2 separate regions of the Homo sapiens genome follow, and region 2 is linked to region 1. The links come from fine-mapping of genetic effects on gene expression. A gene starts in region 1. The other region holds a variant in brackets. All regions are shown on one strand. Distances are between the middles of the regions. Region 1 holds the start of SCAMP1 (secretory carrier membrane protein 1). Region 2 overlaps LHFPL2 (LHFPL tetraspan subfamily member 2).

The links.
Region 2: its variant is fine-mapped to the expression of SCAMP1 in monocytes (Quach 2016, PIP 0.94).

What each region holds. Positions count from the first base shown.
Region 1 is chr5:78,351,651-78,366,971 of GRCh38, reverse strand. It overlaps SCAMP1 (secretory carrier membrane protein 1), which reads right to left and starts at 6,355. Exons shown (of 9, transcript NM_004866.6): 1 at 6,244-6,355. The coding sequence starts at 6,300. SCAMP1-AS1 (SCAMP1 antisense RNA 1) reads left to right here and starts at 6,431. Exons shown (of 2, transcript NR_105014.1): 1 at 6,431-6,758; 2 at 6,987-8,208. RefSeq lists enhancers at 5,596-5,715, 6,110-6,706, 6,626-6,785, 6,816-6,905, 6,707-7,303 and silencers at 5,806-5,925, 6,356-6,445.
Region 2 is chr5:78,475,138-78,489,887 of GRCh38, reverse strand. It overlaps LHFPL2 (LHFPL tetraspan subfamily member 2), which reads left to right. Exons shown (of 5, transcript NM_005779.3): 5 at 735-4,658. The coding sequence ends at 991. It overlaps SCAMP1 (secretory carrier membrane protein 1), which reads right to left. Exons shown (of 9, transcript NM_004866.6): 9 at 9,149-14,384. The coding sequence ends at 14,220. Among named protein-coding and RNA genes, the nearest start is that of SCAMP1, 120 kb to the right of the region's middle. The variant TTGTAA/A (reference allele first, on the strand shown) is at 4,554.

The sequences.
Region 1 (15,321 bases):
AAATTTTATATCTTTTTTTTGTTTGTTTTTTGGGTTTTTTTTTTTTTTTTTGAGACAGGGTCTCACTCTGTCACCCTCCCGCCTCAGCCTCCCAAGTAGCTTAGATTACAGGTGTGCACCACCACACCCAGCTAACTTTTAAATTTTAGTAGAGATGGAAGTCTCACTATGTTGCCCAGGCTGGTCTCAAACTCTTGGGTTCAAGCAATCCTCCTGCCTTGGCTTCCCAAAGCACTGGGATTACAAGCATGAGCTATCAAGCTCAGCCTCAAAATTTTAAACAGATAAGGGAGGAGTGAAATCAACTTGTAAGTATCATTGTCAAGGTAAATGAAATAAGATGGATAACATTCTTGATGTTACAAAATGAAAACTAAGGTCTGAACGTTTGTTTCCTTAAAAATCACATGCTGAAACCTATCACCAACGTGATGGTATCAGAAGGTGAAGACTTTGTGAGGTGACTAGGTCAGCAGGGCTCTGCTCTCAAGAATGGGATTAATATCCCTATTAAAAAAAGGACCCAGAGGCCAAGTGTGGTGGCATACACCTGTAATCCCAGCACTCTGGAAGGCTGAGGCAGGTGGATCACTTGAGGCCAAGAGTTCAAGGCCAGCCTGGCCAACATAGTGAAACTCCGTCTCTACTAAAAATACAAAAATTAGCTGGGCATGGTGGCATGCACCTATAATCCCAGCTACTCGGGAGGCTGAGGTAGGGGAATCGCTTGAACCCAGGAGATGGAGGTTGCAGTGAGCCGAGATGGCACCCCTGCACTCCAGCCTGGGCGACAGAGCAAGACTCCGTCTCAAAAAAAAAAAAGAAAAGAAAAGAAAAGGGCCCCAAAGAGCTGCCATCCCCTTCTGCCATGTGAGGACACAAAGAAGATGCCATCAATGAGGAAAAGGACTCACCATACACTGAATCTGCTGGGACCTTGATCTTGGACTTCCTAGCCTCCAGAGTTCTGGGCAATAAATTTCTGTTGTTTATAAATTACCCACTGTGAGGTACTATACTTTGTTACAGCAGCCCAAACAGACTAAGACAAATGAATAACACACTTGAATTATGGGTCATTTTCAATTTTAAATTTCAACTCTTACAATGCCACCAGATTACTGTAACTTAAAAGATAACATAAGTGAGAATGCTGAATTTTAGGCCATTTCTAAAAAAAATTTCAATAGACTAAAATTAATTTTTGAGGCCAAAACAAAATGGACACTATGCTCAATTTTAACATGGAGATATTTTATTAGGGAGGAACTACGTGTTGTGAAAAAGCACCAGAATTCAGACAACCTTGGTCTAGTCTAGCAGGTTGATGTAGGCAAAGCACTTAATTATTTTTAGCTTTGATTCCTTGACTATGATCAGTCAAACAGCTACTACCAGCACTCCAGAAGATCCAAAAGTAACATAAATTTCACTAAATTCATAGCTAAGCATATAGAGATTATTAAACAGAACTTTTTTTTTTTTTTTTTTTTTTTTTTGAGATGAGTCTCGCACTGTCGCCCAGGCTGGAGTGCAGTGGTGCCATCTCAGCTCACTGCAACCTCCACCTCCCAGGTTCAAGCAATTCTCCTGCCTCAGCCTCCCAAGTAGCTGGGATTACAGGTGCCCGCCACCACGCCAAGCTAATTTTTTGTGTTTTTGGTAGAGACGGGGTTTCACCATGTTGGCCAGGCTGGTCTCGAACTCCTGACCTCGTGATTCGCCCGCCTCAGCCTCCCAAAGTGCTGGGATTACAGGCGTGAGCCACTGCGCCTGGCCATTAAACAGAATTTCTTAAATTACTATTAATACTAAATATTAGTACCTAATTAAAACCACTATACATTAAGCTCTTACTATATGCTAAATGTATGTTCATCTAATCCTATTTACAATCCTATAGAGAATGTACTATTACCCTATTTTACAAAATAGTAAACTGAGTCTTTCTTTTTTAATACTTCTAGGGTACATGTGCACAACGTACAGGTTACATATGTATACATGTGCCATGTTGGTGTGCTGCACCCATTAACTCGTCATTTACATTAGGTATATCTCCTATCCTTCTCCCCTCCCCCCACCCCATGACAGACCCCGGTGTGTGATGTTCCCCACCCTGTGTCCAAGTGTTCTCATTATTCAATTCCCACCTATGAGTGAGAACACGCGATGAGTAAACTGAGTCTGAAAGAGGTTAAGTAACTTTCCAAGGTCTCACAACCAGTTAGTGTCAAAGCCAGGATCAAGCCCAGATCTTTTCAAATTCTTGAGCCAAAATTTTTTAATCCTATCCTCTGCTGCCTCCCCTCAACTCTAACCTCCAAATACAAAACAAGAATTTTGGTATCAAAATGCAACCAGGGAGCACATACAGTGTCACCAGTAATGGACTAGAAATCAGGAGACCTAAGTTCTAATGCCAATTCTACACTACCTACACATGGGCACAAGACAATGAGCAAGTGTGCCTCTGTGGGCTTTGTTTTTTAATCTATGAGATCTGACTGAATATATTTTAAGAATTTGCCCCCCCAGCTGTGAAATTCTAATTCTCTTCATATTTTAAAAATTAATTTAAATGTTATTTCCATAATGAACTATCTTATTCAATCAATTATCATGTTAATATGCAAAAGCATAAAGCATGAAAATTTTCTGACCACTTACTAATTTCTTCCTTTTATGAACAAACTGCACTTGTTCCGGCACTTAACCATACACTCTTATGCTGACTTGTAAGAGCCTATATTGCTGACCTCTGCTGGTTATTAAACTCTCCCCTTTCATTCATTTTCCAAGCATATTTGTCTCACTGTTAGACTAATAGCCATAAGGACAGAGACACTTCTTCAGTATTTGTTGAATGAATAAACTCAACAGAAAACAAAGGACATACAGCAATTCTTCAATAATTACATGTTGACTATACAGAAAATATTTTTCCCTCTATAGCTTTAAAACCCCATTTTAACAGCTCAAGAGTGGATCCTCAGAAACTTCTATATAATTAATCACCTATTTTCTTTTCGATCACTACAGATTTCCAGTTATTCCAAGTTTCTTGATGCGCAATGAAAGCCATTCAAATTTCATAAAACCATTCACTAAGCCTAGGAAAACCACTAGAATATAAAGCAGGGGCTCAACAAAAAAAAATGAACTGAATCCAGCAAATAGCCTTACAAGAACCAATAAAATCAAGTAAACCACTATGGTTATATTATATAAGGAGAATAGACTCAAACTACTTTCATGATACGGCACAAACGAAGATGCTTGCAGAAGTATTCCTAACATAAAAGTGAAGGAAAAGAAATGCTAAAAAATGAAAAAGGCAATGGAAAACAAATAGGATTTAATGAAAAAGAAATTAGCATAGTTACCAAATGCGAAATATCATATACTTGAAAATAAGAGCTTTATCTTCAAATACTGCAAATAAAAACAGATTTGAAAAATGGGTCGGGCCCAGTGGTTCACGCCTGTAATCCCAGCACTTTGGGAGGCCAAGGCGGGTAGATCACGAGGTCAGGAGATCGAGACCATCCTGGCTAACACGGTGAAACCCCGTCTCTACTAAAAATACAAAAAATCAGCCGGTGGTGGCGGGCGCCTGTAGTCCCAGCTACTTGGGAGTCTGAGGCAGGAGAATGGTGTGAACCCAGGAGGCAGCGCTTGCAGTGAGCAGAGATCGCGCCACTGCACTCCAACCTGGGCGACAGAGGGAGACTCCGTCTCAAAAAAAAAAAGAAAGAAAGAAAGAAAGAAAAACGATCTGCTTGAACGCAGTGGCTCCCGCCCGTAATCCCAGCACTTTGGGAGACTGAGGCAGGTGGATCACGAGGTCAGGAGTTCAAGACCAGCCTGGCCAATACAATGAAACCCTGTCTCTACTAAAAATACAAAGAATTAGCCGGGTGTGGTGGCGGGCACCTGTAATACCAGCTACTAGGGAGGTTGAGGCAGGAGAATCACTTGAACACGGGAGGCAGAGGTTGTGGTGAGTTGAGATCACGCCATTGCACTCCAGCCGGGGCAACAGTGCAAGACTCCGTCTCAAAAAAAAAAAAAAAGTAAAAAAAGAAAAATGATCATAAAGTAACTCAAATGATTCTAGAAACATTTCAGATTTAAGTAGAGTATCAGAAATGTTATTTCAAAAATCACTTTTACATAAATATAAGCAGAAGTAAAAAGACAAAATATAGATATAAAACTATACTTTGTGAGGAGGAGGGGCAGGTGAACATAAATGGAAAAATAAAGGGTCAGATACACTGACAGTGCTATAACAGTCACCAAAAACAGAGAAAGATCATAAGCAGAAATATGTGTACAACCAAGTCTACTTTAGACCTAAATGATCTGTCCCTGATGCATTTTACAAACTTGAATAATCATTGTCCTGGATACATCCACTTATAAAAGAACAAAAAAGATTTATAACGTTATGCCACAATGAATATTTAAAACAACTCCTGGGTTTAGAATTACTACAGCAACTTTATGAATGTCAGAAGAGGAAAAGTGTCATGGCAATATCAGATGTCACAAAAGGACAGTCTGGGCTAAGATGAAGACAATGTTTTGCCCTAACAAGAGAGCCAGTTAATATGAAATGAACCATGAAATGGAATGACCAAGTAGAAAATACACTGCCAAATCGTCAGATGCTGAATAAACAGCGTCAGTGAATTATCTGAATTAGGAAAGGCTAAAAGGTTCTTGATGTTTTATCTTCAAAATATTTTAAAATAACACCCATTTAACAATTTATGAACGGTCTCTTTAGAAAGTCTACCATTTAAGAACTACCTGATTTTCCACAACATGGAAGCAAGTCCAATACTAATTGAAACAAAACTGCCAGGAAAAAAAAAAAAGTCTTAAAATGCAACCATGTCACTGAAAGGTACAGGCCAGTTGTACTGAATTTTAAGTGACATTAGGGACAATGAAACAGTGACTGAGTCTAATTCTACACTGCTACAAAGTGAGTCGAGTTGTCAATAATAATCAGGGTCATTTCATTAAAATAATCCTCCTTGGAATTATCAGGCATTTAATAATCAGAGCAGAAATAGTTTTCCTCTTCCAGGATTCTTAATGAAAGATAAAACCAGGAGTAAAAAGATGTAAACTCAACAAGCCAGAAGTGACACTTGTGTGACCACAAATTAGAGTTCCTGTTTTATTCTGTGTGACTGCAAATTAAAGTTACTACTGCACATGGCCGGGGGGATTGAGAAACAACTTCAACCAACAGTTGGAAACAAATTACACGTGCTAACAGTTACACTCATTAGGAAATTCAGAATACTTTCAAAGAGAGAGTTATTTAGATGTTGCATTCATTTAAACGCAGACGATGAATATCTCAGCCGCCTTCCTTTGCAGGATTCTGTGCCAAGCCCTTCCGAAGCCGGGGTTGATAAGGTCGACTCCAAGAAGAAAAGCAGCTCAAGTAGGAAATGGTATCCTCACATAGCCCAGAGAACCGGTGACGCACTAGGAGCTTGGAAAATATCCCATCGTTTACCTTGCTAGAAGCAGCTGGGTAGGGAAGAGGTCGTCCACGTGCACTATTGTTTTCCAGATATGTTTATTTTTAAGTTTTGCTTTGGTATCAATAACCTCAACCTCAACCTAACAGAAAGAGGGGGGATGGCAGCGCCACTGGTGGTATTTGGGTGCAACACAAGTTTAAAAAATAAAAACATAACCTTTTTTTTTTTAATTGCAGCATACTCGGTGCCCTCACCTCTCTCCTCCTCCACACCTCTGCCATCACCCCACGCAGCTCTCCGCCGCCGCCACCTCGGGTCCCCATGACAACCCCACCCCAGGGCGGGCCCCCCTCCGCCGACTCCCGGCCCTGCCAGCCACACTTGCTTGGCAAGGGGCGACTCTACCTGCCCTCGGCTTTCTCTCCTGAGAGGCGGGCCAGGACCCCTCCGGGCGCGCGGGCCCAGTCCCGGCTGCAGACACGACCCTCACCAGTCGGGGACGTGTGGAAGGGCGACCGGGCACGAGCTGAGGAGGTTCCACCCCCAAGCCCCAAAACCCAAAGGAGTGACACGGGGCCGGGGCGCGACCCCAAATGGAGGACGGCGGCCCCGCGCCCCTCTCTGGGCTGCTAAGGGGAGCCGAGGGGCAGACGCAGTGGGCGCGAAGGAACTCGTCCGTTTTCACAAACAACGACGCGTCGCGGCGGCAGGAGATGCTGGGGCCGAAGCTCACCTTGAAGGGATTGTTGAGATCCGGGTCGGCAAACGGGTTACTGTCGAAATCCGACATCTCTCTGGCTCTCGGCGTCACCCACCCGACCCAGGCGCAGAGAGAGAGACGAGGCGAGGCCGCCGCCCCCCTGCGCGCTCACGTCGCCGCCGCCGAGCAGATCCGGGTGCAGCTCGCGGGCCACCCAGCCGGCCGCGCCACTGAGCATGCCCGGTGCGGCGGGCTCCTGGCCGCGGCGCAGCTCGCGTTCGCCATCCCGTTCCTCCGGGCCCGGATCCCACGCTCCGGGCTTTAGCTGCGACCGAGTAGGCAGTCGGGGCGAAGGAAACGGGAACTGAAAGCGATGAAAAGCGTTCCACACGCCACGAGCCCGCGGGATCCTCGGAGAGTATGGAACCCTTCCCCTCCGCTCTCAGCCGGAGGCCAGCTGCGTCCAGCCGGGCTCGGTCTTCTGAACACCGATTTCAAATCAGGTCCTCGGGGCCCAGCGTCACTTAGGGAAGTGGTGGCATTTTGTGGTAAGGACGCACACTTGTCAGGTTGGGGGAGGCAGCCTGAGTCGTGGGCCGCGCACCCCGGGAGCAGTGCCGTTAGACCGTGGGACGCGGGCACTGGAGAGGCTACTGCACCGCCCTCCGCAAATTACCTCCCCGGGGCGGGGGCGCGGCCGCTGCTAAGGATTTTTGCATACCCCTGACCCCACCTGAGAATCCCGGCCTCCCATCTTCCGGTCTCTCTGACTCTAGGTTGCTGCTAAATCACGGAGAGCAGCCTTGGCGCTGCCGGTCCCAACTTGATCCAAGGAGCCTTGAGAAGGAGATGAGATTCAGTACCAGGGGCCGGCCGTGGCTCCCATCCTCCGGAATCTGCAAAATGGCTACTTCTTCAGAAATAATGGGGAGAGGGATGGCAAGAGGCCAGAGATCAAGGCCCTCGAGTATTAACTTGAGCATTTGGGCACAAAATAGACACTTTTGGATTTTCCCGTCTTTTCCAACACCAAGGATGAGATTATCAAAAGATGTGTTAAATTAATTTGTACCGGCCGGGCGCGGTGGCTTACGCCTGTAATCCCAACACTTTGGGAGGCCGAGGCGGGCGAATCACAAGGTCATGAGTTCGAAACCAGCCTGGCCAATATGGTGAAACCCCCGTCTCTACTAAAAATACAGAAATTAGCCGGGAGTGGTGGCGTACGCCTGTAGTCCCAGCTACTCTGGAGGCTAAGGCAGGAGAATCGCTTGAATCCGGGAGGTGGAGGTCGCAGTGAGCCGAGACCGGGCCACTGCACTCCAGCCTGGGAGACAGAGCGAGACTCTGTCTCAAGAAAAAAAAAAAATCAATTTGTACCATTCCTTGCCCCACCCTGCCGAACTTATTGAAAGAGCATCGCTTTCCTCACTTTTCTCCTCTAACAGAAAAGCACTTAGATGAAGCTACAGGGAGCCAGAATTCTTTTGACTTGGTGGGTACCGGAGGATTGGAAGAATCTAGATTGAGTATTCCTTGGCCTTTGGGGAGCTTGCTCTATGCAAAGTCACCCAGGAAATGATACTCCCCCCACTGTGAAACACTAGCTAGAGATGATAGACAAAAAGCACATTTGTTGTAATCTCCCTTTGACGGGATTCAGGTTGGGATAGATGTCGAAGCAGCTGCTTCTAGGTAGTCAACGAAGATGTCAACTAGTAAATGACAACAGACAAGGATGAGCACAGCAGAGCTGTACGATTCTAGATATCAAAAAGAGCAAGCAGTCTGTTGTACTCACCATCGCATCCTCAGCAGCTGCCCAGTGCCCGGTTTTAACTTAGTGCTCAGTGTATGTGTCAGGTTTGAATCCCAATTCTGATACTACCTGTGCTACTCTCTTCACCTCTCTGAGTCTGTAAAGGATTATTTAAGAATTAAATGAAACAACATACAGAAAAGTGTCCTGCATGTATATTTAGTGCCTAACAAATATTGGTTGAACGTCGAAAGTGGCAAGGAGGCTCAGTATGTTCTTATACGCTTTGCCTCCCTTCTCCTGAGCAAGCATGTCCTTGCCCAGCTCATCTGCTTCTCTCACCACTTTTGCCCTCACTCCCTCCACCTGTCCTCCAAATGACTCAAAATAATCTGCACTATTTATTATGCATCTACTATGTTCCAAGACAATGAGGGTCAGCTGAGCCCGCATTGCAGGATGGAAATTTCCAACTATGTTCTGTTTACAGCTAATGATATTTGCACCTAATGCAAAGGTTTACAGACTTTACTGTTATAGAATCATTTGGAATACCTGTTGAAGATGCAGACACCCACCTTACCATACCTCCTATTGCTAAGATTACGCTTGAAAGGATCTGAGGTAGGGGCTCTGGATCTGCATTTTTTATTTTTTACATCTCTATACATTATTTTACATAAATGTATAAATGGAGTCATGACATACATATTGAATTTTTCACTTACAAAAATTTTTATTCCGTGTATTCCCTCTTCTCTTCCCCTACATTAACAACCTAGTACATTTCTTTAAATATTCTTGTAATAGTGTATATCTGCACTTACATAAAATAACATGTAATTGTATAAAAACAATACATATTCATGCAGATATGCATACACTCTAATACTGAGCTTTGGCATTGTCTTGAAAAAGTTAGATCATATGTATATTTTTCTGCAGCTGTTTTTCTCAATACGTATGGCAGAATTTCTCAGCAAGATGTGCATTGTCAGAGAGACAGTCTTAAGGTTTCTTCCCCTAGTATGCCACATAAATATTATCACTTTTTATGTGTAGCATGCCTATAGAGTGAAAAGGGAAGCATGGCCTAATGGAAACCATATATCTGATTCATTATTCTTAACAACTGCAAAAATCAGCATATGTAAAGGATCTCAGGTGATTTTTTTTTTTTTTTTTTTTGAGACCGAGTCTTACTCTGTCACCCAGGCTGGAGTGCAGTGGCACAATCGTGGCTCACTACAACCTCCACCTCCCTTGTTTAAGCAATTCTCCTGCCTCAGCCTCCCGAGTAGCTGGGATTACAGGCATGCACCACCACACCCGGCTAATTTTTGTATTTTTAGTAGAGATAGGGTTTCACTTTGTTTGCCAGGCTGGTCTCGAACTCCTGACCTCAAATGATCCAGGCCACCTCTGCCTCCCAAAGTGCTGGGATTACAGGCATGAGCCACCATGCTTGGCCAACCTGAGATGACTTTGGTGGTGGCTGATCACACTTTTGGGAACACTGATATGAGGACATGCAGACATATGGTCCATGGGTGAGGGTCTTAATCTGTTTGTGTTGCTATAAAGGAATACGGGAGGCTGGATAATGTATGAAGAAAAGAGGATTATTTGACTCATGGTTCTGCAGGCTGTCAGCTTCAGATGAGGGCCTTATGCTGCTTCCACTCATGCAGAAGGCAAAGGGGAGACTTCGTGCAGAGATCACATGGCTACAGTGCAAGATGGGGCATCAGGGGAGAGAAAGGGAGAAGCTGACTCTCGGTTCTTTTGAACAACCTGTTCTCAAGGATGAGAACTCACTCTCAGGAGAATAGCACCAAGCCATTTGTGAGGAATTCATCCATATGGCCCAAACACCTCCCACCAGGCCCCAACTCCAGCACTGGGACTCATATTTCAACATGACACTTTGCAGGTCCAAAGCCATACCCAAACCATAGCAGGGAGCTTATTAATTCATTAGCCTCCATGAAATTTAGAATTATAGAATGTGCGAGCTGAGAAGGAACCTCAGCCTCTCTCATGATTGAAGAAACTGGAGTTTGGACAGGTTAAGTAATTTGTCTCAGACACCAAGGAAGTGAATGGGGAAACAGGGAACAGAACTCAGGTCTCTTGACTAATGTTTTAGACATTAAATAAATAGGTTATTAAATGAATAGAATTATTCTATATGAATAATTTCATATAGAAGGAAGAAATGCTATGTGCAAGGTAGAGAGAAATTATACAAGAAGCCTCATTTGGTGCAGGAGTTCATTTTACGGAAGGTACCTCCTAAATTTGGTAGAACAAAGACTCAAAACCAGTCTATGCCCTCTCTCCTGCAAACCAACCGTTTGATCTTGAACATATCAACTCACCTTTCTAACCAGAGTTTCTACTCTAGTACATCATTCAAGTATTTCTTGAGCAACTAAAACAGTGATGTTGTGGATAAAGCAGTAAACCAGGTATAAAGCGTAAGGCCTGCTCCAGAAAACTTCCTAAAAGGCCTAGAACATGGCTAAAGGATATCTCAGATCCTTTGGACAGTTCTAACGTTCTATTAATCTGGGACAGTGGCTCACTCCTCCCTAACCCTGTTTCTTTTCCCCTCAGAGTGTGCCTCCCATCATCATCATGCTGCTTCTCCTCAGACTGACACTTTTAATTGGTGAACCTATTGAGCAGGGTCTAGAGTCTGAATTCCTTGTTTTCTAAACTGCCTAGCTTATAGCTGGGGAATGCTAGGAAAATGCCAAGTTAGATATTTACGTTTCTTGCCTCAAAAGGTTCACTGGATTCTGGGTTCACTGATGGATTAGAACTGAAATCCATCATCTCTTACAGTGGGTCTAGTCTCCAGATTTGCTGCTGTGTCTGCTGATACCCTCGACGCCCCAGCACCAGCCTATCTGGCTCCCTATTCTGCCACTGGCTACATTTTCAGGCAATAACAGAGGAGGTGCAGGCATTGTGTGGTAGGCCAAATAATCCTCCCCTCCCCCAAAGATGTCCATGCTATAATCCCTAGAATCTGTAAATATGTTACCTTACATGGCAAAAGAGACTTTGCAGGTGTAATTAAGGTTAAGAACCTTGAGAGGAGGGGATTATCCTGGATTATTCAAGTAGGCCCAATGTAATCACGAGTCCTTGAAAGTGGAAGAGGAAAGCAGAAGAGTTGCTGACTTTGATGATTGAGGAAGGGGTTCTTAAACTAGGGCATGTGAGTGGCTTCTGAAGCTGGAAAGAACCCTCAGCTGACAGCCACCAAGGAAACAGAGATTTCAGTCTTACAGACTCAAGGAACTACATTCTACCAATGATCAATGTACAAGGAAATAGATTTTCCCTCGAGCCTCCAGAAAGGAACCTAGCCTTGCTGACACTTTGATTTTAGACTGGTGAAATTCATGCTGAACTTATGACCTACAGAGTTGTAAAATAAATAAATAAATTTCTTGATTGTGCAGATTATTTTGTTAAAAAAAGAAAAAAACCAAATTTTTGTATTAAGATGCTAAATTGGTAGTAATTTGTTTCAGCAGACAGAAAATCTAATACAGATGCTTCTTGATTTACAATGAGGCTATACCCTGATAATCCCCATCGTAAGGTGAAAATGCATTTAATACCCCCAATAAACCCATTGTAAAGTCGAAAAATCATAAATCAAACCACTGCAAGTCAGGGACCACCTGTCCACACCACTGTGGTGTGGAAAGTAGAAGAAAGAAAAGGGACGTACACTCAGTTTCCTGGTGTGCCAGGAAACTTCCAAGCAGCAGAACCAAGGGAAAAATGCAAAGGGTGTTAATGAAAAGAAAGTGAATGTCATTTGACTTGTCCTGAGTGAAGACCCTCAGTTACGGCCAACTTTAACTATGTAAATAGCATGGAAACAGTATTCTTTTTAAAAAGGAATATACAAACCAACTGTATTTGGCTTCGAATTCAAAGTTTACTATTAATAAAGGGAAAAAGCAGATTTTCCACTCTTGCTCTTCCACAAATTCTGCAATACTCTCAGAATGTGTATTACTCTGTCATATAATTGATGTCATCATCATATATATTCCAATTGGCCATAGCACCTTGAAGGCAGGGTTTGTATGTTTTTCAACATTGTCACTCCAGCATCTGACATGGTGCGGCAAATAATTAGTGGATGAATGAATAAATGCCGCAGCTTCCATTTGAGGCTTAACATCATCTTTGCTTCCATTACTAAAATACTATTTGAATGACTCTTCCCTCATTGCAAATGCTGTCTTCTTAAACGTTTTTATTAAGTACTCCTTTGCCTAAAAACCTTTATGATCTCCTTGTCAGCTATAGGAGAAACACTAAATTCAGTATCATATCACTCACGGTCCTTCCTCACATGGCCTCAGTCTATGCTTTCAGCCATACCTTTCCCCCACTGGCTCTCTACATGCATTTATTTATGTATCTGCTTCCCCTTCTCCTTTTTTTTCAAATTTTAGGACTTGTAGTGCAACCCACTAGTCAGTCATAAACTCAATTTAGAAGGCTATGACCAGCACATTTTAAAAGAGAACAGAAAATATCCAAGTACGTGGCACACAATAAACAGAAGCTGCACAAAACCTTTGTTTCAGTTGTGTGTACATGCGTGTCACACTTAAAATTTATTTATTGTGGTCATGGCTCTAAACTGAGAATTCCTCAAGGACAGATTATGTTTTATTTTATTATGATTGTTGGCTTTTATTATTCCCAGTACTTATCACAGTGGCTGGTAAAACAATTATAACTTGTTTATTTGTTGAATGAACCAGACTGAACTAAGGGTATTTTGGAGTTAAAGACTGTAGAGCTACACCAACAGCACAAAGTCAAGTAGTGTGGGTTTCCTCGAGGGATCAAGGCAGTCTGCCTGTCTCCACAGGATGCCCTCAGTTCTCCCACATTATCACAGCATATGTACTTGGGTCCCAACGGCAACTCCACTGCTGCCTCCCAATCAATTCACAAATTGCTATGGAACATCTCTGGGGTAGGGTTCTGACCTAGAAGAAACCTGAAATATAGAGGTTTAGTCCTGGGACCAGGATGAGGGTGAGGCCACAGAGGCTTCTAGGGCACCAATTTTAAGGAGACATTCACCCTCAGGGTCGAGCAAGTAGCAACCCTGCATTCAGTCCTTTCCCTGTCTTCTAACCAAGTTGATGAAATCACACAAGCACAAAGAAGCACCAGGGGCTTTGCAAGAAGGCCAGCCTGGGTTCAGATTCCTGATCTGCTGCGTTCTGGGTTGTGCAACTCTTCAGGCAAATTGCTTATCCTCCCTAATCCTCACGTTCCTCTCACCTCCTTCATTACCACGCTAATTCAAGCCATCAACATCTCTCACCTGGATCACTGCCATAGTCTCTTAACTAGCCTCCCTGCCTCCACCCTTGTCCTCCTACAATTTATTCTCCACACAGTGCCAAACTAATTCTTTTAAAATGTAAGTGAGGCCAGGCATGGTGGCTCACGTCTGTAATCCCAGTACTTTGGGAGGCTGAGGTGGGCAGATCACCTGAGGTCGGGAGTTCGAGACCAGCCTGACCAACATGGAGAAACCCCATCTCTACTAAAAATACAAAATTAGCCAAGTGTGGTGATGCCTGACTGTAATCCCAACTACTTGGGAGGCTGAGGCAGGAGAATCACTTGAACCCGGGAGGCAGAGGTTGTGGTGAGCCGAGATCATGCCATTGCGCTCCAGCCTGGGCAACAAGAGCAAAACTCTGTCCCCTCAAAAAAAAAAAAAAAAAAAAAAGTAAATGAGAACATGGCCCTCATCCACTCAAAGCCCTCTAATAGTTTCCCAGCTGTATCAGGATAAAAGCTTGGGCCTTGCAAGTCCCTATGGATTCCAGCCCCTATTGCCACTCTAACTTTATTTCCTATTCCTCTCCTTCGCATTATCTTGTTTCAGGCCCCCGGCCTCCTCACCACTTCACGTGTCCCCCAGGCGTGCTCCCACCACAGAGCTTTTTTCCTTTTGTTTCCTCTGCCTGGGTGCAGTTCCCGCCTCTTGACTGCATGGCTCACACATTCACTCATCTCCTGCAAGTCTTTGCTCAATTGTTACTTTCTCAGTAAGGCCCTTCCTAACCTCCCGTTAAAAAATGTTAGCCCTCTACTCTCTAGCACTTCCTCCTTCCCTGCTGTATTTTTCTCTAAAATGCCTTGCACCATTTGACATACTCTGCTCCCAGTAGAATATAAGCTCCTTGAGGATAAGAACTTTTGTCAGTTTTGATCACAGAGATCTCAATGGCTAAGACATAAGAATAGGGGCTCAAAACTGTTGAATGAATGAATGAAAGAATAAATGAATCAAATAGGGATAATAATAGCCCCTCCTAGAATTATGAGACTTAGATTAGAGGATGCTCAATAAATGGTAACTATTACGATTAAGGGACAATTAAGAACTCAAGAAATTAGTTAAAGAATAACTTAAAAAAGGTTAAGAAGTACAAAAAAGGCCATTTAAGATGAGCAAAGGCGGTAGGCACAGTAGAGGCATTCAGAGGGGAGTGAGGTGGTTGTGGCTGGAGTGGGCTGTGGAAACTTCAGAGAAAAAGAAGGATTTGACTCGGGCCTTGAAGGCCTGATGATACTGCTATCAGCATGAAGCATGGAAAGGACAAAAGAGCATACCCATTGGGGCAAAAAGCTTGCGCACAAGCACATATATGAGAGAGCACAAGATAGAAGCGCTTTCACCATCTCACATTTACTGTGGGAGAGACGTCAGGAGAAAAGGTAGCAAGAGAAGAGGTGCTCTCCTTTCTCCGCAGGTGCTTTGGTATATTTATCGGTTATCTTCGACTCAATGAGTTGACCACTAGCAAGCCGTAGATTCACACCACCACCCATTATCCAGCTGGCTGCCTTCCAAGCTCATCGCCTAAGCCAAGCCCAGTCCAACCAGCTGTATACAGTAACCCACCCTTTCCCATGTGATTATATGTTGTTCAAGAGACTGAGTGGTCTGAGTATCCCCCAAATAATTAGAACACAGTGGCATTCCTTTATTATTCATTGTATTAAAGTATTCTATATCACAGGAACACAATAGATATAACAAAATAAATATATTTTTGAGTCTCCGTTTACCTATACATGCATATAGTCTCCTCTACCAAGAATGCCCTTCTGTCCCTCAATTTCCACGTCAAAGTCCCATCAATGCCTGGTGGCCAATTTCAAATGATACATCCTATAGAAATTCTTACTAGATATCCATAACCCAAATTTGTCTCTCCTGTCCCTATAGTATGTAAAACAATTTGTTATAGAATTCATAATAGACCCATCTCCTATGA
Region 2 (14,750 bases), 120 kb before region 1:
GACAGTAAACATTTTAGAGTAAACATTTTAGATTTTGCAGACCATAGCAAAGCAGTCGTAGGCATCCAAAAATGAATGGCCACAGCTGTGTTCCAATAAAACTTTACTTATAAAGTTAACATTTGGCTTGAGGGCCTTAGTTTACCAACATCTGCCTTAGACCAAAAGAGAAATGCTCAGTGCACCAAAAGCCCTGTGGGAATACATAGTAACAAGTTGGCCACTCGTGGTGGAGGCCGAGGTGGGAGGATCACTTGAGCTTAGGAGTTTGAGACCAGCCTGGGCAACATAGCAAGACCTCATCTCTACTTAAAAACTTAGCCAGGTGTGGTGGTGTGTGCCTGTAATCCGAGCTACTTGGGAGGCTGAGACAGGAGGATAGCTTGAGCCCAGGAGTTCAAGTGCAGTGAGCTACAACTGCACCACTGCACTCCTGCCTGGGCAACAGATTGAGACTCTGTCTTAAGAAGAAGAAAAGTACCAATTTGCTTTTCTAGAAGAGAAATTTTTAGTGGATTCACATTCCAACATGTAAAAAAGTGGCTGAAAATATTTCTAATAATGTGATACTTCTTGATCAGGTCAGATTAGTTTGCATGAAACAGTCCCAACACTTTCTATTGCAGAATAGATGCCCTTGCCCAAAGCAAGCAAATCAAGTAACAATTACAACAGATCTGGACAGTTGTAGCACCATGGGGATTTTCTAATCTGTTTTCTCTTTTGTTCTGCAGGTCTATTCCTTATCCTCGGTTTGATACTCTACCCTGCTGGCTGGGGTTGCCAGAAGGCCATAGACTACTGTGGACATTATGCATCTGCCTACAAACCTGGAGACTGCTCCTTGGGCTGGGCCTTTTATACCGCCATTGGGGGCACAGTCCTCACTTTCATCTGTGCTGTCTTCTCTGCACAAGCAGAAATTGCAACCTCTAGTGACAAAGTACAGGAAGAAATTGAAGAGGGGAAAAATCTGATCTGCCTCCTTTAGTTTGGAAGAGACAATGCCATTTTCTCCCTTGAGTAATCTTGTGAAACAGTCCACAGTTTCATCATTTGAGTCAAGTGGAGAACTAACCTTTACCTACCAAAGCCACGTTCCACGGCCCGAGGCTTAAACAGGACCAATGAGAGGCCACATCCAGCTACGCAAAGTTACTGGACATGCGGTCTGCAGTGCACATTATAAGGAATGGAACATGAAAATAGTATATAATCCTAGACCTGGAGTTGCCAAGTTCTGTCAGACTCCATCTCCCCCAGGTTCAATGAAGGATAATAATCTAAATCATTAGGGCAGCAGTTTCTCTGGTAACGGAAGAGACCGTCCGCCAGATCTGCAGGCTGTTTCTGCTCCAACACTGCTTGCTTGTGAGCATCTCTGCCTCAGAATGGGGTTTTGGGTTGGAGTTCTTGTTTTCCTCTGTTCTTTCAAGTTGTCTCCAACGAACAGAAAACTATAAACTTACTGGGGACAGGATGTGTGCTAAAGGGCACAGCAAGACACTGTCTTTTGCTTAGCTGACCAAAGGGGTCAGCAGGGATGGCGTGGAGTCATGCTGTGGAACTTATTCTAGGCTGAATCCTAGGGTAAGGTGGATCAACTGAACTGTCACTCCAGAGATTTTAGAAATTTGAGTAAAGAAACAATAAGGACCTATACAATCATATGAGAACAAAAATATGAAATCTTGCTAGTGAAGACGTATTTTTTCTTCTTCCCAGCAGCCAGGCTAGCACCAGTTCTGGCCCAGTCTCCTCTTCTTCTGGAGATCACATGTTTTTCTTCTAAGGTTAGGATTGTGCTTTGACTGCGAAAGGAAACCTCACTGTTTCCTCCTTCCAGGGACTGAGGTCTCCAAGCTAGCTGTGGCTTATGCAGATGTTCACTGGGAGGACCTGCCAGAATCTCGGCACTTGGGGGGAGACCTTTACTCCCAGTTTGGTGACCATGCTGTAGTCAGCTCTATTTCCAATCCCGACAGTAGCAGAATGGCATTCTACAACAAAAAGAAGCTAGTTATGGGAGTTAAGTTTTTGTAGTTACTGGTGTTGATCCTGAAAGCAGACTGAGATAACATTAAATTGCTGCAACTGAAGAACTGCAGCCAAGACCTTAATTCCAGGAAAGCACAGAGGACAAAGTTAATTCAAAAAGAGGCGCTAGATCAAGGTCACAGCACTGCCTACACCTGTTTACAAAAAGAATCAAATACCACTATGAATAAGGATTCAGGGGTTTTTAATCTACTTTCCATAAATTACCAATATCACTGATTCAGGAAGATAGTATCTCAGAATGACCAGAGCAGCACAGAAACAAGCTACTCTGACATTATGGGAGCTTCAAAATTGTATCATGATACAGAAACACTCCTTAGCACTTTAAGAAAGTGAGATGGAACTGCCAGATTTCTGGAAGGAGAAAAAGTGTAGGTATTTGGGTTCATTAATCTGCTCACTTGAGGACTTTGTTTTGAAAAAGTACCTTCTGTGGACAAGGTATTGTGCTACCAGCTATACAACCCTGACTTCAGAGTTTGCAACCTTGCCCTGAGTGAATCATGTTAAAGCTGTCTGAGTCTAAAGCACCGTATCTTGGTGCAGAACAGATAATTATACAGAGATGGAATGGGACAACCGCAGTTTTACTACATTCTGGTGTTTGGCCTATATGAGAAACCATCTTCTCACAGATTAAGGGCTAAGGGCAAAAGGGGTGGGAGGTGTGGAACTAGCCTTAATGAGTTTCCCATTCCTGAACCAAAATTCAAAGTGAGTGAGATGTAAATCCTGTGATTTTGGTGAAGAAAAAAACGGGTATCTTCATAGCAGCCTAGGAAACCTTAACCATATCTCTAACACCACACAGAAAGAGGCTGGAGGAGCCACTGGACAAAGCTTCTGTCTCTGTGTGTACATTTATAATGTTCTAACCAAGTCTCAAACCTTGATGAAAAACACAAAATTTTTCCATAAACTTATCAGAAGACTCACTTTTCTTTCTTTCTTGGATAGAGAAACCATTTTCTGACACTAGGTTTACAATCTCAGTGTCCTTACAAGTTAAGTCCTAAGCTCACAGGATCCTCCGAGCATGTCCATCACCTGCTCTTTGGCTAAGGTGGCAGTGTACCTCTAGATCAACCTGGGAACAGTCACAAGGGAGTGTGACTTCTTGGCCATAATAAACTCACTCGATAGTGTTTATGTTATTAATCTGAATGCAACAGAAGACAAAAGCACAGGCATGCACACACACAGAACCCCAAACCACTAAAAACTACCTAAACACTGACTTAGTAAATAGTAAAAAGGTAATGTTGGGACTTTTAAACCTTGAATCCATTAGCCAGGCTTGGGATGAAAGGACCATCTAAAATCATGCTAGTCTAAACCATGCTCTTCCACACAGCTGTTTAAAAACCACTGGGTATGAGGAATATGCTAGAAAGAAATGTTAAAAATAGATTGTTGGCTCACACTTATTTTTCTAATAAATAGGACCATTATTACTACCAGGAAAGTCTTATTTATTTTGCCTGAAATTGGCTTAAAGAAAGTCTCATGACGGGATGGGATGGGCTGCGCTTCTCAATGAACTCTGAGGCAGAAATATTTGCCTTGGATTCTGTGGATTCTTTAAACCTGTGTGCTAATAATTCAAACAATGTTGCATTAATTGTATAAGGGTTTTTGTATAGTTTTCAAACATCTGTGGTGTAATGATCTTTGTTAAACATATATTCTGTAAAGTGCCATAGTCTTTTTTTATGTGTAGCATATTTAAAAATATATATGTATATTATACATACACAAGTTTGTGTGAAAGATGTGCAATAACAAAGGTGTATGTATGTTTTGTTGTTTTGTTTTGGAAACTGGACAGGAGTCAAAACAGGGATGTTTGTTTCTGTTTTGGCAAGGAGAGTTCCACATTTTTGCCTTCATGGCTTATTCAGTAACCCATAATTTTAATGCTACACAAATCTTATGTGAAGAAAAGACTGGTATGAAATCATTTTTTCCTGGGTCTAAAATAATCGCTAGTGTTATGTCAAAGTTAAGCCCGCACGCCAGGCCCAGTTAATGCTAGTCTTTCATGTGAAATGTGAAGCTGCCATGTTGCCTTTTCTCTTAGTAGGATAACTAGTAGCTGGTACATAATCACTGAGGAGCTATTTCTTAACATGCTTTTATAGACCATGCTAATGCTAGACCAGTATTTAAGGGCTAATCTCACACCTCCTTAGCTGTAAGAGTCTGGCTTAGAACAGACCTCTCTGTGCAATAACTTGTGGCCACTGGAAATCCCTGGGCCGGCATTTGTATTGGGGTTGCAATGACTCCCAAGGGCCAAAAGAGTTAAAGGCACGACTGGGATTTCTTCTGAGACTGTGGTGAAACTCCTTCCAAGGCTGAGGGGGTCAGTAGGTGCTCTGGAGGGACTCGGCACCACTTGATATTCAACAGCCACTTGAGCCAAATATAAAATTGTATTTACAGCTGATGGACTCAATTTGAGCCTTCAAACTTGTAGTTATCCTATTATA[TTGTAA/A]ACTAATACATTGTCTAGCATTGATTTGGTTCCTGTGCATATGTATTTTCACTATGTGCTCCCCTCCCCAGATCTTAATTAAACCAGATTTTGCAATTCATTCTTATTCTTTCAAGTCTGAGTATACTGGCTTCAATATGATGTGTATAATCTGATCAAGAAAATACCTATCAATCAGTCAACATTTATTTTAAACACTAACTTACATGTAATATTGATGAATGGAAAAAAGATATTCAGGTATTTTAAACTATCCCATTCACTAGTAACATATATGTCCCTACCCTGGGCTATCTTTCTTTAACGTCAAGTATGTATTTCTTCCTTGAAGAAGCATCAACACAATTGTAAATAGGAAAAAACATCTCAAGTATTGTAAACATATATTTTAAAGTAAAGCTATGAAATATGAAAATGCTCCGAAGTATTAAAAAGGGATTTTCAAACATAAATATGTAACAATGACAAGGGGAAAAGTTAACTGAAAGACACATCCTCCTCTTCCAACAACATCCCTAAAAATAAAAGCCAATGATACGGTGCCATTCCACATCCATGTTTCCTGAAGGTAATCCTGGCCATATAAACCCTCATCCAGAAGAGGTGGAATTCTAATTTATAAACTCAAGAATGACACTAAATGCCCTTCTCAACTCTCAACTCTCTGTATCCCATGAAGCATTTATTATTTCATACCAAAAAAAGGCAGTTTCTTCCCCTGATCTAGGGCCTATGACAGTTGAAATTAGATTCATGTTTTGGTTTCTAATAAAAGCTGACAAAGTTACCCATATCAGTTTAAAAAAACCACACACAGTTTTCCAAATAATCATGATTTGAATAACCCAAGAAAAATTAGAAAATTTCCATTGCTTTTTCAGCTGTTATTGTATTCCCCAAAAGTTAATCCACACAGAGAATGGACCCTGGTTGAATTTTAGCAGAAGCTGGGGAATCCTCCCATGTGCTTCCCCCGCTTCCCATCCTTAGTTGTTATCTAGCAATTCTGCTACTAGGTCCACTTTCCACACTGATCTTTCTGGAACATGCTGCATTCAAATTACACCTACACCCCCTTAAAGTTTTTGCTTAACCAAACAACCACTTACAACGGTCCTTACTAACGTGGATATTTTATGTGGATATTATTTCAGTAGTTTCAAACAATCTTTTTCAACTCTCAAACAATGAAGGGTAGGGTATCAAAGCAAACTTTACTCTTCAAAGCAGTAAGAACCAATAACTTTATTTCAGAGGCCCTCACTAGCAGCTGAGTCATTTGGCAGAGCCATCCCACTGCTCCCCCTACTACTATCTTCTTCCTTGCAACTTCCTCTCCTTACCCTGAACAGTTGTGCAAGATAAGTCTTGCAGACAAGAACTGCCAATTTTACTAAGGTACACAGGACACAGATAAAAGCACACAAAAAGAGGAAGTAGTGAAACCAAAACCACATGGGAAAGAAAAGTCAATCAAGTAACACATTGCTATTAGCAGCTTTTTAGCTTTTTCTAGCCAAACATCCTGAAAAATTGAACACCTACAGGTAGGCAGTCCAAATGCCTATGTTTAGGGGAAACCACTATGATTTTATTCACAAGAGACGAAAGCCTGAATTAAGGCAGTGATGGTAAAGGACAGTCAATGGGATGAATTCTATGTTAGGGAAAAAGAATGGGCAGGTGACTGATCAGAAGTGGAGAGGAAGGAGAGGAAAGAGTCTAGGATGACAGCCAGGTATTTAGCGTAGACACTGAGTGGAAGGTGATGTGATCACCAAGATGAAGACTCCAGAAGAAGCAGGGACAATGAAGGTGAGGAGGTTCAGCTTAGGCTGCCAATGTAGAAGTCCTGTGTGCAGCTAGGACTATACTAAGGAGAGAGAGAGATTTGGGAGTCATCAATACACCTGAGAGATGGTAAGTGTCCTTAGTTATTGTGCAACTTCTATGGGCAGATACTATGCTAAATACTTCATAAAATTCATTTATTCATCAAAATCCTATGAGATAGAAACTGTTACTATTGTTTTACAGATAACTGTCACTTAAATAACTGAGGTTAAATAATGTATCCCAGGTTAGAAAGCTAATAAGCGGAAAAGCCAAAGCTCAGATACATGTTTGACACCAAAGGCAACTCACTCAAACTGCTATGTTGTTTCCTTCTACCTGGAATGCACAAGGTGGGAAGGCAGCCAATGCAAACTCCTGGGCAATATCTCTACATTGTAAACACTTAGAATAACTTCCAAATAAAACTCCAAAAGGGCCTCACCATCACAACTGATGAAAACACTGCTTCTTCCTCCCTTTCAGAGAAAACACCTAGTGATTTTTCATAATTTTGAAGATGACACCATATGTCTCAATTTATCAATCATGATTTAGCTCAATCCTGAAAACAGACACAAGAAATTCATTAAGTATGTGACAGTGGGAAAATAAATGATAGGCTTTGACAGTTTTTATTGTTTTCTTAGTATAAATAATCTCTCATTCAGGGTAAGCAACTATTATAATCACATAAGAAGCATATTTAACCTAATAATAAGGATTTGTCCTCGACTAAAGTTTCTCCAAACACACAAACGCCAAAGACCCTTTAGTAAATTTACACTGCTGAAGAATGGGCAGCAGGTACTCACCTTTAGGTGGCAGGTGTTAGCATTTGGTCTGGAGACTTCAAAAATATATGTAAAAATTTTTTTTGTTGATTTTTTTTCTAGTATCTGTTGTCCCTAAAGGATGGACATGAATGACTGGAAATGTGGAAGGATGAAAGGGAAGACAACTGGAACGAGGCGGCATGGTGGGGCAGCCACGCTTGGCAGGAGTCAGGGGACCTGCCTGTTCTCATCATCCCTCTCCAGCCCTTCACCACCACCACTCACTGAGTGACCTTGGGGTAATTTCCTAGAACTCTACAAAAACAGAGCCAACAACAGAAATTATATCACAAGTTTGGTATGAAAATTAAGTGATGTATATAAAGCATTTAGTACAGAACACTGGTATATAATTAAGCCCACAATAAGCTATTATTAGAAAAAAACTAAGAAAATACTACCCACCCAGACTAATATCATTTTAAAATTACATTCTATGAAAGGTAACATAACTTGTCGAAACCAGTGTAATTTTACCTGGAGAGACTCAGTGGATTGGCTACCTGAGGCCACCATTTCTTTTTCCATCCTGTTATAACAGAGCATTCAGCTAATTATCTTTACCTTAGAGCTTTCAGGAAGCAGAAGATTTCTCAGTGGATGCAGGGTACTCAGTTACTCCTATTTAGCAAAAACAAAAACAAACAAACAAACCGGTAGCATTGGGTGAGCACATAAGCCATGTGAAACCAGAATGCTCAGAAAAGAAACCTGATTTGTCAAAATCTATTGGGATAAAAGACTTTTTAGAAAAGGAACATCCAATGCTGGCCAAGGATGTGAAGAAAGAGGCCTTTCCGTACATTGCTGATGGAGTTACATATGGATAAAATTTTTCTGGAGAGCAACTTGGCAAAGCACATGAAAGGTGCTTTAAAAACTATGCATAATACCCTTTAACTCAGCAATCTGTCCTAAAGAAAAAACAAAAGCCCGAGTCCCCAAATTTAGCAACAATATATTCCTTGATAAATTATTTATAACTTTAAAACCCTGAAAATCAGAACCTAAAGGAATAACAAGACTTTATGATACATACATATGATGTTAGCTATATAGCTATACTAAATGTTACAGAAATATATTCAGAGATATTAAAATCTTCAATACATATTTATATCATAACTGAAATAAGATAAACTGTTGTGTTAAGATCCTCCAGTTAAAAGTAATAAGAAACCAATTCAAGATAGTTGAGGGAGAAAAAGCGGTAAGATTATGAGGATAATGGGATAAGGGTGAGAAGTAGGGCTCCATAAAGGAAAAGGAAAGCCACTAAGATCTTTTCTATGTCATTCATTTTACATCTCCTGTTATGTCTGTTTCATTCTTCATTTTCATTGCAGACCAGCTTTCTTGGTGATTCCTTCCTCATGGCAGAAAATGGCTACCTCTTATGTTCCAATTCTGGAACAGTAGAGTTCTAGACATATCTACATTCAGAATAAAAAACTGATAAGCCAGGAATGAGTCCACTATGGCCAGATGACATCCAGTACCAATGTGGACTTTAAGGACCCAAAGAAGTGGGGCTTTTGAGGAGTAGGTAGACATCCCTAAAGGATGTACAAGGATGTACGGGGTCATCTCATTTTTAATATTAGGAAGTTGTCTTCCTAGAAAAATAGAAAGATATAAACCAGATTTTAATAGAAGTTATTCATGGATGTAAAATTATGAGAATTTTGGTTATTTCTTTTGCTTATATTTTCTATAATTTATACTGAAATATACATTAATTTTATAAATTAAAAAAGTTAATTTAAAAAACTAAACTATTGCGCCATTATGACATAAAGCTAAGTGAGGGGAAAATAAGGTTTTTAAAAATCCATATTGCTTATATCTCTTAACTAAACAAAACACATATGCATAGAAAAAGAATGGAAGACAATAAAATATTAGCAGAGGTACCCCAAGATGACAGAATTAAGGATTTATTTTTATTTTCTCATGTATCACTTTCTGAATTTTTAATTGTTCTACAACACATTATGTATTGCTTTTATACTAGAAAAAAAGTGTGAGGGATGCATAGGCCCAGTGGGTTCAGTTTTTGTGCAGGAGACTAGAATACTGTAGATACCACAGTGATCACCAGATAAAAGACACTGATTTTTGGTGTTTTCCCCCATCCCCAAAATACCTGAATACTACTACAAACTGCCAACAGTAACAACTACTACAATCATGATTTATCTTGAGAATCACTGGCATACAAAATATTAAAAGTTGTGGAGGAATTCTAGAATTACATTTAAGTAAGCACTGAAAATAACTAGAATTTAAAAATAAAACTTGTATGGTATTATTCTACAAACTAGAACTGTTTTAATGTATAGAAGATAATATTCACAGTAATCTTATATTACTAGGTGGATGATTAACTATTTTCTGCTCCTATTACAGAAAAGATTAAATGGCTTTTAGTGTTAGGAGGGTTTCAGCTACACCATCAGCCATGTCAAGCCCAGAAAGATATGAACTGAAAAATAAATCAGGATTTGGACAAACACAAAGTTTAACACTCACTACATTGCCACATGATAGTTCCCATGTTCCCTTGCCATTTGAAACACGGCCAGCACTAATGAAAATTCTTTTTTTTTTTTCTTGAGATGGAGTCTCGCTCTGTCGCCCAGGCTGGAGTGCAGTGGAGAGATCTCGGCTCACTGCAAGCTCCGCCTCCCAGGTTCACGTCATTCTCCTGCCTCAGCCTCCCAAGTAGCTGGGACTACAGGCGCCCGCCACCATGCTCAGCTAATTTTTTTTTTGTATTTTTAGTAGAGATGGGGTTTCACCATGTTAGCCAGGATGGTTTCGATCTCCTGACCTCGTGATCCGCCCACCTTGGCCTCCCAAAGTGCTGGGATTACAGGCGTGAGCCACCACACCTGGCCAAAATCCTATACATTAAATGTTTGTCTTACCCAAACCCCAAAGTTAAATTGTAAATATAAAACCCACAGCGGGGGTGAGAAAACTGGAGAACAGTCTTTCTCTATTTTCCTACAATCTTCAAATAAGAGGTATCTGCTTATATAAGACAGGTTAGTGGCAATACCTGGCTTAGAAAGTTTCTAGATTTATTTCTAGCTCTCTACATACTGTGATAAAGTCCTAAAGTTTAAAAATACCCACCAATATTACAGGCATGCTGCTTTATAAAATATGCCCTAAAATTCTAGCCAAAATACTTCACTTTCTGTAATACTTAATATGTGAGATAAAACTTTTTAGCTCAATAAAAAAGTATTTAAAACAACTCATGTTTTAAACACATTAGTCTACTCTAAATAAATGTATACTATTGTACTTTAAAATGTATCAAAGTAAGGTGTTTTCTATTTTTTAACCATCCTCAATTTTTTTAAAATTAACCAATCTTATTTCATCTCTAAAGGGCTTAATCACATGAAATGAACAAATTCCTCTAAACATTTTCCTTAAGGAAAAACTGAAAGGAGATATAGTGAAATGGTATATGACAGCCATGGTAACTCTAAGGTATACATAAGCAGGGGAAAAAATGCTCAAAATGTAACAAATTCTGTATATAAACAGTCATGCCAAACACAGATTTGTACCAATAAGGATACTGAATTAGATGTTAACAACAGTGTTTTCAGAAAAAGATACAGCAATGAGTAAAAAGCACTATGCTATTACAAATGATTTACAGAAACAACTAATTAACCTAACATAAATCCCCTTAAAATGCAAACCATACATAATCTTAACATGAATTACAGAATAAAATATTTTCCTAGTAAATTAGGTGTAAAAATCCAAACTTGCTTTTTTAAATATAACACCCAGAAAATAAAGAATACTGTTCCTTTTTTAACATGTATTTCTCAAAATAAGATTCACCATGAACATTATTTTAGATATTTTTACATCTTCTTTAGCTAACCAAGTGAAAAATCCAATATACACAAATAGGTACTTTCATCAGTACATAAAACAGCAATAGGTAGCAAGGATAGAAATCAGAATACAAGTTCAATTGAATAAATACAATACTAGTACAGAGACACCCATTTTTAACCCACAATGAAAAATCTGAGCCATGAATAGGTTTTCCATTTTGAATCTAACTTCTAGATGATCTGTATTTTGACCTTAAAGGGGCCAAAATATTTAATATGGGTGAAGCTCATGTTCCATTACCTGTAAAGGTCTAATGCAACAGAAAAATGGTCATTTTACATTGGTTAGAATTTTTAACTAGGTCTTTCATATTATTTTGTTTAGCACATGACAGACTTATACACATATTTTAAAAAATCAAACATGGAATTTCTATATACATCAAACCTTTAACAATGTCTGTCTCTGAATTGCTATTATAGTGTTCAAAATTATACAAACAAACATCCAGTAAACAGCATTTTATTTTATGACACTCTGTGTTAATACAATAAATATACAAAACTTCCAACCCACTGAAACATGCAACATTAGAGGGACACATGGAGGGCATTTCTGTAGAACCATGACAGTCACCATGATGGCAGCGCAGTATTAGTTACTGACAAAATATACAAACATCTCTAGATAAATAATCCAAGTCCCAAATTACAAATCACTGAGTAATGACTTTCCGGTGTTCAAACTTTAGTTTGAAATAAAATTGCCATAATTTAATATTACAAAATGATAAATGACACGGATGACTGCTGTGTGAAGACCATTTTATGACTATGATTTCATGACTGTGATTTTAGTACTAAATATAGAACACTTAACAAATGCCAATCTTTTGCTGAGTGAAAATTTAACAATTTACTGAGAGAAAAGTAAATATAAGAATTTAAAGTTCCTTTCATACTTGATCATACTATAAGCATTGCCATCATTTCAATGCACATATATTTTTAAAAAACAATTTTCTCTCTCAAACTCATATTAAATAACTGGATTTTAAAACATTTTCCCCATCCACACAAAAAAAGATATGTGGGTTCTAATTATTCTTTGCTATTTAATAATGCTACCTTTGAAGATTTCTACATAATATAAACATTCCAATTCTGAAGCAAAGTATTTCAGCATTTTTCAAAAGTCTCTAATATATCTTTTGTTTGTAGTGTACAGGAAAAAATGGACTTGGGATATAAGTTAATGGTGAATATAGGTGCACTTGCTGTATTTTGTGGTTAATGTTTTGAATGTATGCAAAATCCACACTCAATAAAGCACACTGATAAAATAGATTTCCAATAAGACTACAGGCTCTGAAAAACAAACTGGCTAAGTTGGTTGAGAACATAGGTAGAAATTATCGCTGATTAGAAATATTTACAAAAAATAGCTTTAAATTCATACGCTGAAGAATAAAAGAAATGTCTTCCAAGTATACCTGATGTCAATAAGATCCCAAATAAATCAAATGTAAACACCATCTGGATGGATCTGTGTTACCTAGTGACATGCAGCGCTGCTTCATGGATAGTGAAAACTTGGCATCCCACCTCTAGCATAAAACTTTTTCTGTAACTACAGGTTTGGGGAGAATGAAAGTGATTTAACTATTTATGCCTATCTGATTTTTTAAAAAATAAGGATTTCCAGCCTCTAATATCACAATCCTTACTTAAAATCTAATTGAATAATCACTATCATTCTGCAATCTTAATTTAGTTAAAGACTTTCAAAACACAGCAGCATGACTTACAGATGTCTTTGAGTCATTTATTTAATCAGTGGTAAAATTGATTCAAAGGTTGAACCCAAGAATACTATAAGAATGAAGTTCTGTGCTGCATAGTAACAATTTTAACGTGATTATCTTAATGCAGTTAACTGTATTTATATTTTCTTGCTTGGTGCAAGTTAAATGCTTTTTTTTTTATTGCTGGAAATTTTAGATATATTCAGTCTGTCTCAAAAAGTGAAAGACAGGTGCATTTAGGGATTCAAGTATGTGAAAAAATGCCAGGGTCTTTTTATGTTTAATGCCACTGGAGATGAAAAGCTAAAAGGAAAATCCCTTAAATACTGTACAATCTTTTTAGACAACAGTTAGGCTAGCCTTTAATACCTCTGTTAAAAATCACACACACACATCCCCAAAAAAGAGCTGCCAGACACAATCTTAGTTGTAACCACAGAATATACCAAAGTTTTCATATAGCAAAATGTTACTATATGACTACCGAAATTTTTTTAAAAAGGAATTATTACCACTACTTTCTACTGCATTAACTACCTTCTCTTTTGGATAATGTACTGCATATTATATAAACTTCTTATATTGCACCCCCAAACTTTTTATTTAAAAGAAATTCTTGCAGAATATCATTTCTGTGATTCCATTAACCCCTGAATCCTACAACCATAAGCAGTACAGAAGCCAAAACACTAATTCTTTTAATATAAGAAATGTGGTGCCCATGCAAATTAGAGATTGTTATCAAAATATCAGCTATTCTAAAAAAAAGAAAAGAAAAAGATGACAAATTTTACATTATCTACTACAAAATGCACATAGGCTCTTCACTGGTGACTGAAACAGCTAAAAAGCAAGCCAATTTAAAATCCCTAAGTCTCTGCTGGCCTATTTCTTTCAATATAAATAGGGAAAAAGGAATGAAACATGGTTTACTTTTCCAATGTGCAATCCTTATCTCTAAAGATTCTTGAAAGAACTACTGCAGTTAGTATTAAATGCGTTTTTAATCATAAGTACCATTATTAATTTTCAGTGGGTCACCACTGAAATAATTCACTGAATGTCATCCCCCAAAAATATGGAGAATATTTATTTAGCATGTAATATTTTTTCTGCAAGGGGCACTGAAATATTAAGAAACTATTAGGTAAAGTAATAAGACAAGGAAGTTTTCCTGGTTTTAGCCCATGCACAAGTGAACAGGAAATATCCATGCTGTCTGTACTGTGTGTTTTGAACATAAAAATATTTGTAGAATACAGTAACTGGAGAAAAAGGTACAGTCAAAAGGTAACAGTGTATTGTTTGAAGATTCTTAAATCTGGTTACCCTTGAAAGCATTCTGAGCTGCACTAGATGCTGCAGTTGAAGCTGCATTTGCAGCTGCGGTCTGGACAGTTTTGTTGGACATCACACCTGTTGCAAACTCCTGTTGGGCCTTCTCAAAACTAGCACCTGTTGTGCGATATAGTCCATGTACCTACAGAGGCACAAAAAAGTGGGAGAAGGTAAGTAGCAACCTACGCATTCATTTCCAGCAGCTCTTAATCTCAACATTAATCAAACATAAAAATACTAGATTGTAGTCATGATTCCTAAGATCAAGAATATTAGCCACCAAACTGACACACAATAATTGTATTTAAACATTTTCTTAATATAGGTTTTCCTTTTCTTCTCCAAGCAGAAGAGATAATTATGCTAATTTAAACCAAAAATAAAGAACTTCTTAGCCAACTTCAAAAAGTTGTATTTTCCTCTGCACCCAATTAGTCAAGTGAAATTATTACAGCATTACAATGAAATGGTTTAAACATAATAACAAGAAACAATACATTAATTTATT